Homo sapiens: one gene and its partners. The gene in region 3 interacts genetically with the main gene of each other region. Each region holds a gene or a part of one and is shown on either strand. Other genes may lie near its edges. The genes, in order: RPTOR, MPHOSPH6 and XRN2.

Region 1 (3,656 bases), on a different chromosome or scaffold from region 3:
GGGAACTCTGAGGCTGGCGGGATCCTCCATATGCTGAACGCTGGTTCCCTGGGTCCCCTTATTTCTCTCTCTATACTTTGTCTCTGTTTCTTTTTCTTTTCCAAGTCTCTCGTCCCACCTAACAAGAAACACCCACAGGTGTGGAGGGGCAACCCACCCCTTCACACTTTCAAAAAATCCCTCTGGCCAGGTGTGATGGCTCACGCCTGTAATCCAGCACTCTGGGAGGCTGAGGTGGGAGGATCACTTGAGCTCAGGAGTTCAAGACCAGCCTGGCCAACATGGTGAAACCGCATCTCTACTAAAAATACAAAAAATCAGCCGGGCATGGTGTCATGCACTGGTAGTCCCAGCTACTCGGGAGACTGAGGCACGAGAATCTCTTGAACTCGGGAGGTGGAGGTTGCAGTGAGCCGAGATCACGCCATTGCACTCCAGCCTGAGAAACAAGGAGAGACTCCATTTCAAAATAAATAAAAGATCCCTCTGACTGCTATGTGAAAAACTGGTTGTAGGGCAAGAATGGACATAGGGAGACCAGTCAGGACACAAATGCAGTGTCCAGACAAGAGACGGTGGCTGCCTGGACTGGGGCTGCATCAGTGGAGACAAAATGAAGCAGGCCAATGTAAGACATGCTTTGGAAGTAACGCTGATGGGTTCTAATGAATTGGATGGGGCGATAAAGAGAGGGAGAGGAAAGAATTAAGGATAAACTCTAAACTTACAGCTTGAACAACTGAGTGGATGGTGGTTGTGGCAAGCGGTGATGGAGAAAACTAAGAAAAAGCAGGCAGTAGGCATCTGAGACAGAAATTTCAGGCCAGATCAGAACTAAAGATTGGGGGTTTAAGCATCACTGGCATGTAGACACTATTTAAAATCATGGGCCCCGATGAGATCTGCTAGGGAGGGGCACACCCAGAACAGAGAATGGGGTCCAAGATCAATTCCTGGGGTGCCCCTGCATTTAGGTGTCAGGTAGCAAAGGAGTCTGAGAAGGAACAACTAGTGACCTAAGAGGAAAATCCGAGTTTCGTGGAGACACAGAAGCAAGTGAGGAAAGAGCTTTATGAAGAGGCCATGGTCCACATTGTGGAATGCTGCTGAGAGGTGAAATAAGAACAGAGAAGGACAGAGAAGAGAACTTTAGATTTAGCAACAAACTGGGGCCATATGGAGACCAGTCTCAGGGGAGTGGAACAGGGCACAGTTGGAATGTGGAGAGGACGCAAGGTGAGGAAAGCAGAGGGGGTAGTGTAGATTATGAAGGATTGCTATTACCCTTGCTGAAAAGACCGCATAAACCTTTGGCAGTCCATGTATTAGTTGAACAGATCTACTCTGCTTCCTCCATGACCTGGGCAAAGTATGGCTACAGAGCAATGCAACTGAGTCTAGAGAATGGTTTACAAAATAGCCTTCTTCATCTAACCGTTTCATCCCCTACACATGTAGACATAGGATGCCTGTCAGTGGTCCTACACATGCATGGAAATAGTGTCTGACAATGACACCACACATGTGTACACAGAATGTGTCTGCCAGGGGTGCTACATGCATGTAGACAGAGTGTCTGTCAGTCTACATGTGTGTAGACATAGCATGTCTGTCAACACTTTCAGAGCAATAGCTCTCAAGCACCCGTCATTCCATCCCACATATTCCAGGCAAAAGAGTCATCTGAGACCAGTTATCCCCACTGTCCACTTTCCAGTAGGAAAATGAACTCTGTGATAACTATAAAGTATCACAGTTAGACCAGGCACGGTGGCTCACACCTGTAATCCCAGCACTTTGGGAGGCCGAGGCAGGTGGATCACCTGAGGTCAGGAGTTTGAGACCAGCCTGGCCAACATAGTGAAACCCCGTCTCTAATAAAAATATGAAAAAAATTGGCCAGGCATGGTGGTGGGCACCTGTAATCCCAGCTACTCGGGAGGCTGCGGCAGGAGAATCGCTTGAACCCAAGAGGCGGAGGTTGCAGTGAGCCAAAAACACAAATAGGGGAGATATATACGTATCTGTTTTAGCCAAAGGTCTGTGAATGATTCATTTTGAACTACAATTCATATATGTCTAGTTATTTGAAAATTGCAAGCTAAAAACACTATGGATACATATATGCCTCATTCACTATACATAGTAGAATTAACCAAACAACAAACTAACTTGATAATAATTTTAAAGTAACAGTAACTTAGAAATTAAAATGTGGTAAAAGTGGCATTTGAAAACCAAGACTGATTCAAAACAAAGATGGCAGGAATCCCAACTGAGAGCGGGCAAGGGCTGTAGCTCTGGAAGGATGCCAAGTGTTGGGTGGCAAAAAAAACTTCTTGGGAGTCATCAGTCAGTCAACTTTGGTAAAGATGTCAATTTGAGGAATCTGTAGCAAGGCTACTAAATAGGAGCCAGTAAGAACTAATGAATATATGTACAAAATAAAAGCGTATGGAATTGCACATTAACCACAAGAAGAAGCAAAATCTCAGCTTGCATTTAGGACAGTCAGTGGCCACCAGGAAGTAGTTGATGTAGCTCCTAGCACAGAACAACCACGCCCACACATTTCACTTTACAAACATGCTGCTCCACCAGACTGGAGGCTACGTCCAGCACAGTGGGACTGTGTGGCCTGGAGGCCTGGGTAACAGAGATTCTTACGTAGGTAACCCACTGGTCAAAAAACACCCCAGGGCCAGGTGCTGTGGCTCACACCTGTAATCCCAGCACTTTGGGAGGCTGAGGCAGGTGAACGACCCGAGGTCAGGAGTTCAGGACCAGCCTGGCCAACATGGTGAAACCCCATCTCCACTAAAAATACAAAAAAAACTAGCCAGGCGCCTGTAATCCCAGCTACTTGGGAGGCTGAGGCAGGAGAATAGCTTGATCCTGGGAGGCGGAGGTTGCAGTGAGTCAAGACCACACCACTGCACTCCAGCCTGGGCAACAAGAATGAAACTCCATCTCAAAAAAAAAAAAAAAAAAAAAAAAAAACCACCCCAGGCTGAGCGTGTTGGCTGATGCCTGTAATCCTAGCATTTTTGGAGGACAAGGCAGGAGGATTGCTTGATCCCAGGAGTTCAAGACCAGCCTGGGCAACACAGTGAGACTCCCCAACCCCAGACACACTGGCGCACACTTATAGTCTCAGCTACTGGGGAGGCTGAGGTGAGAGGATCACTCAGGCCCAGGAGGTCGAGGCTGCAGTGAGCCGTGTGATCTCACCACTGTACTCCAGCCTGGATGACAGAGCAAGACCCTGTCTCAAAAAAAAAAAAAAAAAAAAAGAAACAGAAAAACACTCCACAAATGGGGTTGTTCAGCCTGCAGTGTTGGACTACAGTGTGTTTGGTAATAAATCTGAATTAGTATGAATATTTACAATAAAAGAAAAAAAAAGTTTGCTGACTTCTCAAAGACAAAGAGAGAGGCCTGGCCATAGCCCAGTTGCCCCTTCAGTTATGGCATCAGGGAGCCCCTGTTCCCACCCTCCAGAAACTGTCACACACACTGTGCCAAATGTCAGCTGCCATTTGTCTTTATCTTTGAACCTATGCCATTATTCTTCTTAAATGTGGCCTGTTTCATTCTCTTATGCTACCATCCCCACTCAATATCATTTGAGTTTGCAACTTCTGTCCTATAGCATG
Region 2 (2,938 bases), on a different chromosome or scaffold from region 3:
CTCATACTCACAGTGAAAAAAAAAAAAAAGGCCAGATTAACTTCAAAGTCCTATCTTTTCTCATAACTCACCAGAGAACTGAGGTCACAGAGCAATAAAACCTTCCTTACAGAGATTTGAGGAGAGAGGAGACATGTACCTCATTCACTTCCTGGGAGCGAAATTAAATCAGTAGTTCTCAGAAGTCCTAGGTACTTATCTGCAGACAGAAAGACAGACACACATACACACACTTAATTCTATGTGCTTCTTTCTGTACTTAGCATTTAGAATAGAGTTCAGACTAGGAGATGGTACCATTGGTCAGTGGTAAATTCTGTTGGGTTATACCGTAAGAAACTAAAGGTTATTTTTGACCTGTAAAAGGCAATTTCTTATGGTTCAACCTAATACATCACTATATTCTGATCAATGGCTGTTTTTTAAAGTTATTATTTGGAAAAAAGTTATATTACTGAATTAGACTAAAATTGTTATTTGAAAGTACAAGAAAATATAAAAAGTATGTGAAAGTAGATTTTTATTACAGAGCAAATTTTTCTATCAATTCAATGCTTTAAATAAAACAACATAATACCATAAACTGACAATGACCTGGGAGCATGTAAATACTTAAGGCTGGAGAGGCATTTTTATTCTTGATAAATTTATATAATAAATTCTTATGACATTTGATTCCAAATTGTATGTACGAATTGGCTTGACATAATAAATATAAACATAAGGGCAATTTAAACATTGGCAGTAGTTTATGTAAGTCAATTCAAGGTCAGTGACTGGAGAACTATATTAAGAGAAACCTGAGGTAAAAAAAATCTTTAGGAAGCAGCCCTGTAACAATGTACATTTGTAGATCAGGGGCTAAAAATCCACTCTGAATGAATACCAAGAAGCAAAGGATGTACAACATCCATCACACATCTGTTTCAAAAACAGCATGTTTCTAAAATGATAATCTCTTTACAAGTAAACGTTACAGTATTAATAACTATAGAGACACCATTGGGATGAGCTCCAGATGCCCTGCTGACTTCCACCAAGCACCCCTGGGCCATCGCTTAAGGCATCCATCTTAATCCTGGGGCTTTAAGAACATCTTCTTTGCTTTAATTGGTGTTATGTCTCCATTTTCATCTTCTTCATAATTGGCATGGTCTCTCTTTCTGGCAAACTTTTTCCCAATTGTCCCCACCAAGGTCTCATATCTGTCAAGAGGACAGGCAGCACACGTTTAATTTCAAATAAAAAGGTAGGGATCAAGCCTTGTCAAGAATATCAGACCAAATATGCAATAAAAAAGATTACGAAAAAGAAAACTATCATTAAAAGAAACCATCTGATTTAACAATTTATGAACTTCTCTAAGAGTGATTAAATTCCTTGCCATTTTGGTGTTTGCATTACCCTAAATAAATAGAGATGTACATTTTAAAATACACATTTCCAGCAGCTCTGGAAATGGGCCCTCAACTGGCAGCCTGAGACAGGTCTGTGGCCCCCGTAGGCCATTAAGAGAAGGCCGATCACAGTCATCGTCCTACTGGGGGACTCCCTTGAAAGCTGCCGTGCACTGTGGGGTAAGAGGAGCATTCCTGGGAGAGCCAATGAATGCTAGGTCCAGATTAGAAGGCTGCTGCGCAGCACGGTTACCTTCTAGCCATCTCTTCATCTGACACATCAAGCTCTACTGTTTCATCTTCAACTTCTTCTGCTTTGTGCTTAGCATTCATCTGAAGCATCAATTTCTGAAAAATACACCAGTGCTGACCTTCAGGCTAGAAAACGCTTGTGAAAGGAACTGATGTCAAACTTACCTGAAGGCAGAGAAACTGAAGTCAAATAATCTAGAGAACTAGTCAAAATTGATAAGGGACTCTCTGTAATACTTGATACCACAATGGTGTAAGAGAAGTAAGCTCTGAGTCAAAAAAATAGTAAGGCAAAGCCCCACTGAATTATACTTAGGGTGAATTTAAAGTGTATTTAAGATCATAAATCTTAGTATTAGTTACTCATATTTAAAGCAGGCATACTGCTGACACATTCCGGTGAGTGGGGGAAGAAATAATAAACTTTCAGATTTTCCCTGAACTTCCCCCACCCATCTTTAAGCCATATGGAAGAAACACTAGTCGTCAGTAATAATTTTAAATGCATCTCTTGGTGGTGGTGGTGGTGAGTGGAGGAGGTGGGAGAAGTGGAAGGCTGGCCCTGTTTAATGGAGGGAATCTGCACCTCAGCCTTACCCTCCTAAACTTTAGAGTGGATAATGCATCCCATGTAACATCCATGCACCACAGGGTCTCTCCTCCAACTCTTTCACATAAACCTTTTTGTGATAATTATCCTCTGACCTTTTTTTTTTTAAATGTGTAATCTCTTCTTTTTAGCAAGAGGAGAAGGAATAAAAGATGAGAAATCAGTCTTAACTAGTTTTTCTAAGGCTTAAAAGAGTGATAATAGTTTAAAACCTTTTCCTAGGGGGAGTGTATTCAGTGTTTCAGAATCCAGTAATTAGGGCCATTTTCTAACACCCGTCCCTGCCCCCCATCAATTTCTGCGGGCAGTGGCACCTCTCCTTTCCCATTGCAGCAGACATACTTTGGAATGCTCGCCTATCCAAACCCTACTCTTTGAATACCACATCTTCATAATCCCTGCCTTTTTCTTCCCTCTTCACCCCACTGCCCAGCCCCTCTCCTTCTCAATCTGAAGCTTAATTAAAGAAAGTCAAAGCGAGACCAGCATATATTAAAAACAAACACTTCTAACATAACACCTTAATTATCACACATGCCTCCTCCCACTCCGCCAAAAAAGAAAAGGAAAACTAACCTAGAATCTTTCAATAAACTCTGGCAATTGGCTTAGTTAACTGTGGCTCCTAGAGAAGTGGTTCTTAACTGGGGATGATTTTCCCCACCAGGGAACCTGTGAA
Region 3 (3,656 bases):
CTACAGGCGCGCCACCACGCCCGGCTAATTTTTGTAGTTTTAGTAGAGACGGAGTTTCACCATGTTGGCCAAGCTGATCTTGAACTCCTGACCTCAGGTGATCCACCAGCCCCTGCCTCCCAAAGTGCTGGGATTACAGGCATGAGCCACCGCACCTGGCCAGGAATTCCAGTTTTAATATTAGGTTCCCTCAGAACTTTGAAAGAAATTGTTCTTTTGTACTCTCTCATCTAGTAGTGTTGATGACAAGTTCGGTGTTAATGTGATGTATTTATTTAACCAGCAGTTATATAGCATTTACCATTGTTTTAAGAACTTTATTATAACTTGTTTGATCCTCACAACCACATGACTTCTACTGTTGTAATTATTTTTATTACATACAAATAATAGAAGCACGTTATTTGGAGACAACCAATATTGTTATTATGTTATAATAATTACTATGTTTATTGGCCGGGTGCGGTGGCTCACGACTGTAATCCCAGCACTTTGGGAGGCTGAGGTGGGTGGATCACGAGGTCAAGAGATCCAGACCATCCTGGCTAACATGGTGAAACCCCATCTCTACTAAAAATACAAAAATTAGCTGCGCATGGTGGCGCGCCTGTAGTCCCAGCTACTTGGGAGGCTGAGGCAGGAGAATCACTTGCACCCGGGAGACAGACATTGCAGTGAGCCGAGATCCCGCCACTGCACTCCAGCCTGGTGACAGAGCGAGACTCCATCTCAGAAAAATAATGATTATTGTTATGTTTATTATTATTTCAGATGAGAAAATGGAAACACAGCAGGGTCGCGTATCATACCCAAGGTCACTCAGCTGATAAATGTCAGAGCTAGTGTGGAAACCAGAAGGACTTAATTTTTATGCTCATATGCTTTCATTCTTTTGTGATCAGTTTTCCTTCCTAGATTTTAAAAAGATCTTTTTCTTGATAGTGTAAACTTTCATTATTAGGTACCCAGGTATAGATGTTATTTTAAATTCAGATTCATTTTGATCAGTACGTGGCTCACTCTTTGAGTCTGGAGTCTTACGTTCTTCGGTTTTAGGGAATGCTGTTTGATGATTTCTTGACCTTTTTTTCTTCCCTTTCCAGACTCAGGATACTGGTCCTCTTAGACTCATGTATTTTTATTTTTATTTTCTCTCTCATTCTCTGGCTTTCCTTGAAACCTCCCCCAACCTTTGGTGTTTTTGCAGCTTTGTTGAGGTATACTTGACATAGAATAAACTGCAGGTAATTAAAGTGTACAATTTTCTTTTAACTTTTTTCGAGTTGAGGTCTTGCTCTGTCACCAGGCTGGAATGTAGTGTGCAATCATGGCTCACTGCAGCCTCAAAGTCCTGGGCTTAAAGTATATAATTTAATACAGTGCATACATCTGTGAAACCAGCACAACCAAGACAGTGAACGTGACCTCTAAAACATTCCTTCTGCCCTTTTGTAGTTCCTTTCTACTATCCCTCCCTGCCACCTGTCTTTTGCCAACCACTGACTGGTTTGCTTTCTGACCGTATGATAAGTTTTCATTTTCTATAATTTTTTATAAATGAGATTATATAGTATATACTCATTTTTTGCCTCAGTTACTTTCATTCAGTATACTTATTTTGAAATTCTTCCGTTGTTGTATGTGTCAGTAGTTTATTTCTTTTTTGTTTTTATTTTTTTTTGAGATGGAGTCTCGCTCTGTCGCCCAGGCTGGAGTGCAGTGGTGCGATCTCGGCTCACTGCAACCTCCACCTTCTGGGTTCAAGCAATTCTCCTGCCTCAGCCTCCCAAGCAGCTGGGATTACAGGCACATGCCACCACACCCGGCTAATTTTTGTATTTTTAGTAGAGATGGAGTTTCACCATGTTGGCCAGGCTGGTCTTGAACTCCTGACCTCAAGTATCTGCCTGCCTCGTCTTTTAATTTTTGGATAGTATTCTGTGTGTAGATACACCACATTTTATTTATTTATTCAGATGATTGATGAACATTGGGATTGTTTCCAGTTTTTGGCTTTCTGAAAAAGAAACCTATGAACATCTCTGTACAAGTCATTGTAGGGACGTATGCTTGCATTTGTTTGGGGGAAAAACATTAGGAGTGAAATGGTTGGATTGTATATTAGGTGTGTGATTACTTAAAAAGAAAAACCTGCCAGACTTTTTTTTTCAAACTGGTTGTGCCATTTTACATTGGCATCAGCAGCATATCAGGGTTCCAGTTGCTCAACTTCCTCACCAACACTTGATATAGTTAGCCCTTTTAGTTTTAGGTAGTCCAGTGTACTGTTACCTTATTGTGGTTTTAACTTGCATTTCCTTCAGATGCTTATTTGCTTTCTGTATATCATCACGGGCAGGGTGAGGCATCTGTTCAGATCTTTTGCTCATTTTTATCTTCGGTTGTCTTACTTAAATGTAGAGTTTGTTACATATTCTAGATAGAAATCCTTAGTTTGATATATCTTTTGCAAATATTTTCTCTTGATCTGTGGCTTGTCTTTTTACTTCTTAACAGTGTCTTGGGAGCAAACATTTAAAAATTTTAATGAAGTCTGATTAATTTTTTCCCTTTATATTTCTGCTTTTTGTATTTAAGGAATCCTTTGTCAAAGCCAAGGTCTCCTGTGTTTTCTTAGAGAAGTTTTATAGTTTTACTTCATTCTGTGGTTTCCATTTTTTGGTCTAGTCATATGGTGAATTATCGGTCTTTAAATGCTAAAGCCACCTTGCATTCCTTGGATAAACCTCACTTGATCATGTTGTATTATTTTTATATACGTTGAATTCAAGTTTGCTAAAGTTTGCTAAAGTTTTCTTGAGAATTCTTGAGAATTGTGTCTCTGTTCACAAAAGATATTTGTAGCATTCTTGTAATGTGTAGTTGAGATGTCAGAATAATGTTGACCTCAAATTGAGTTCCTTCAGTTTTTTGGAAGAGTTTGTGTAGAGTTAGTATTGTTTCTTCCTAAAATGTTTGATAGAATTTACCAGTGAGGCCATCTGGACTTGGAGTTTTGTGGGAAGGCTTTAAGCTGCAAATTAAGTTTCTTTAGTTGATCTAGAACTATTGAGGTTACCTATTTATTTATTTATTTATTTTTTGGATGAGCTTTTTTAGTTTGTATCTTTCACAGATTTTGCCCATTTCATCTAAGTCAAGCTTGTCCAACCTGTGGCCTGCAAGCTGCATGCAACCCAGGATGCTTTGAATGCGGCCCAGCACAAATTCGTAAACTTTCTTAAAACATCATGAGATTTATGCACAGACCTTTTCTTTTTTTTTCAGCTCATCAGCTGTCGTTAGTATTAGTGGCCCAAGACAATTCTTCTTCCAAAGTGGCCCAGGGAAGCCAAAAGATTGGACACCCCTGATCTAAGTAGTTGAATTGGCTGACATAAAGTTGTTCATAGTATTTTCTTACTATCCTTTTTTTTTTGTTATTAAAATGTTTTCACTCCTGTTTTTACTTCTCTTTTGTTTTCTTTTTTCTTCCTGTTAACTTGTTATTATCCTTTTAATATTGTTAGAATCTGTAGTGATGTTACCTCTTTCATTCCTGATACTTGTAATTCTACTTTCTTTGTTTTGTCCCATTATCAGTCTGGCTACACTGTTCTCAGATAACTAGCTTTTGGTTTCATTGATTTTCTTTA

The links.
Region 1: changes in XRN2 (region 3) and RPTOR together harm fitness less than expected from each alone (positive genetic interaction), as found in Homo sapiens cells (one large-scale study listed by BioGRID).
Region 2: changes in XRN2 (region 3) and MPHOSPH6 together harm fitness more than expected from each alone (negative genetic interaction), as found in Homo sapiens cells (one large-scale study listed by BioGRID).

What each region holds. Positions count from the first base shown.
Region 1 is NC_000017.11:80,547,716-80,551,371, reverse strand, and holds part of RPTOR (regulatory-associated protein of mTOR), read right to left. Parts: intron 1-3,656. UniProt on the Homo sapiens protein: Component of the mechanistic target of rapamycin complex 1 (mTORC1), an evolutionarily conserved central nutrient sensor that stimulates anabolic reactions and macromolecule biosynthesis to promote cellular biomass generation and growth.
Region 2 is NC_000016.10:82,147,659-82,150,596, forward strand, and holds the end of MPHOSPH6 (M-phase phosphoprotein 6), read right to left. Parts: intron 1,746-2,938; coding exon 1,651-1,745; intron 1,206-1,650; coding exon 1,073-1,205; 3' UTR 504-1,072; downstream 1-503. UniProt on the Homo sapiens protein: RNA-binding protein that associates with the RNA exosome complex. Involved in the 3'-processing of the 7S pre-RNA to the mature 5.8S rRNA and play a role in recruiting the RNA exosome complex to pre-rRNA; this function may include C1D.
Region 3 is NC_000020.11:21,306,274-21,309,929, forward strand, and holds part of XRN2 (5'-3' exoribonuclease 2), read left to right. Parts: intron 1-3,656. UniProt on the Homo sapiens protein: Possesses 5'->3' exoribonuclease activity. May promote the termination of transcription by RNA polymerase II.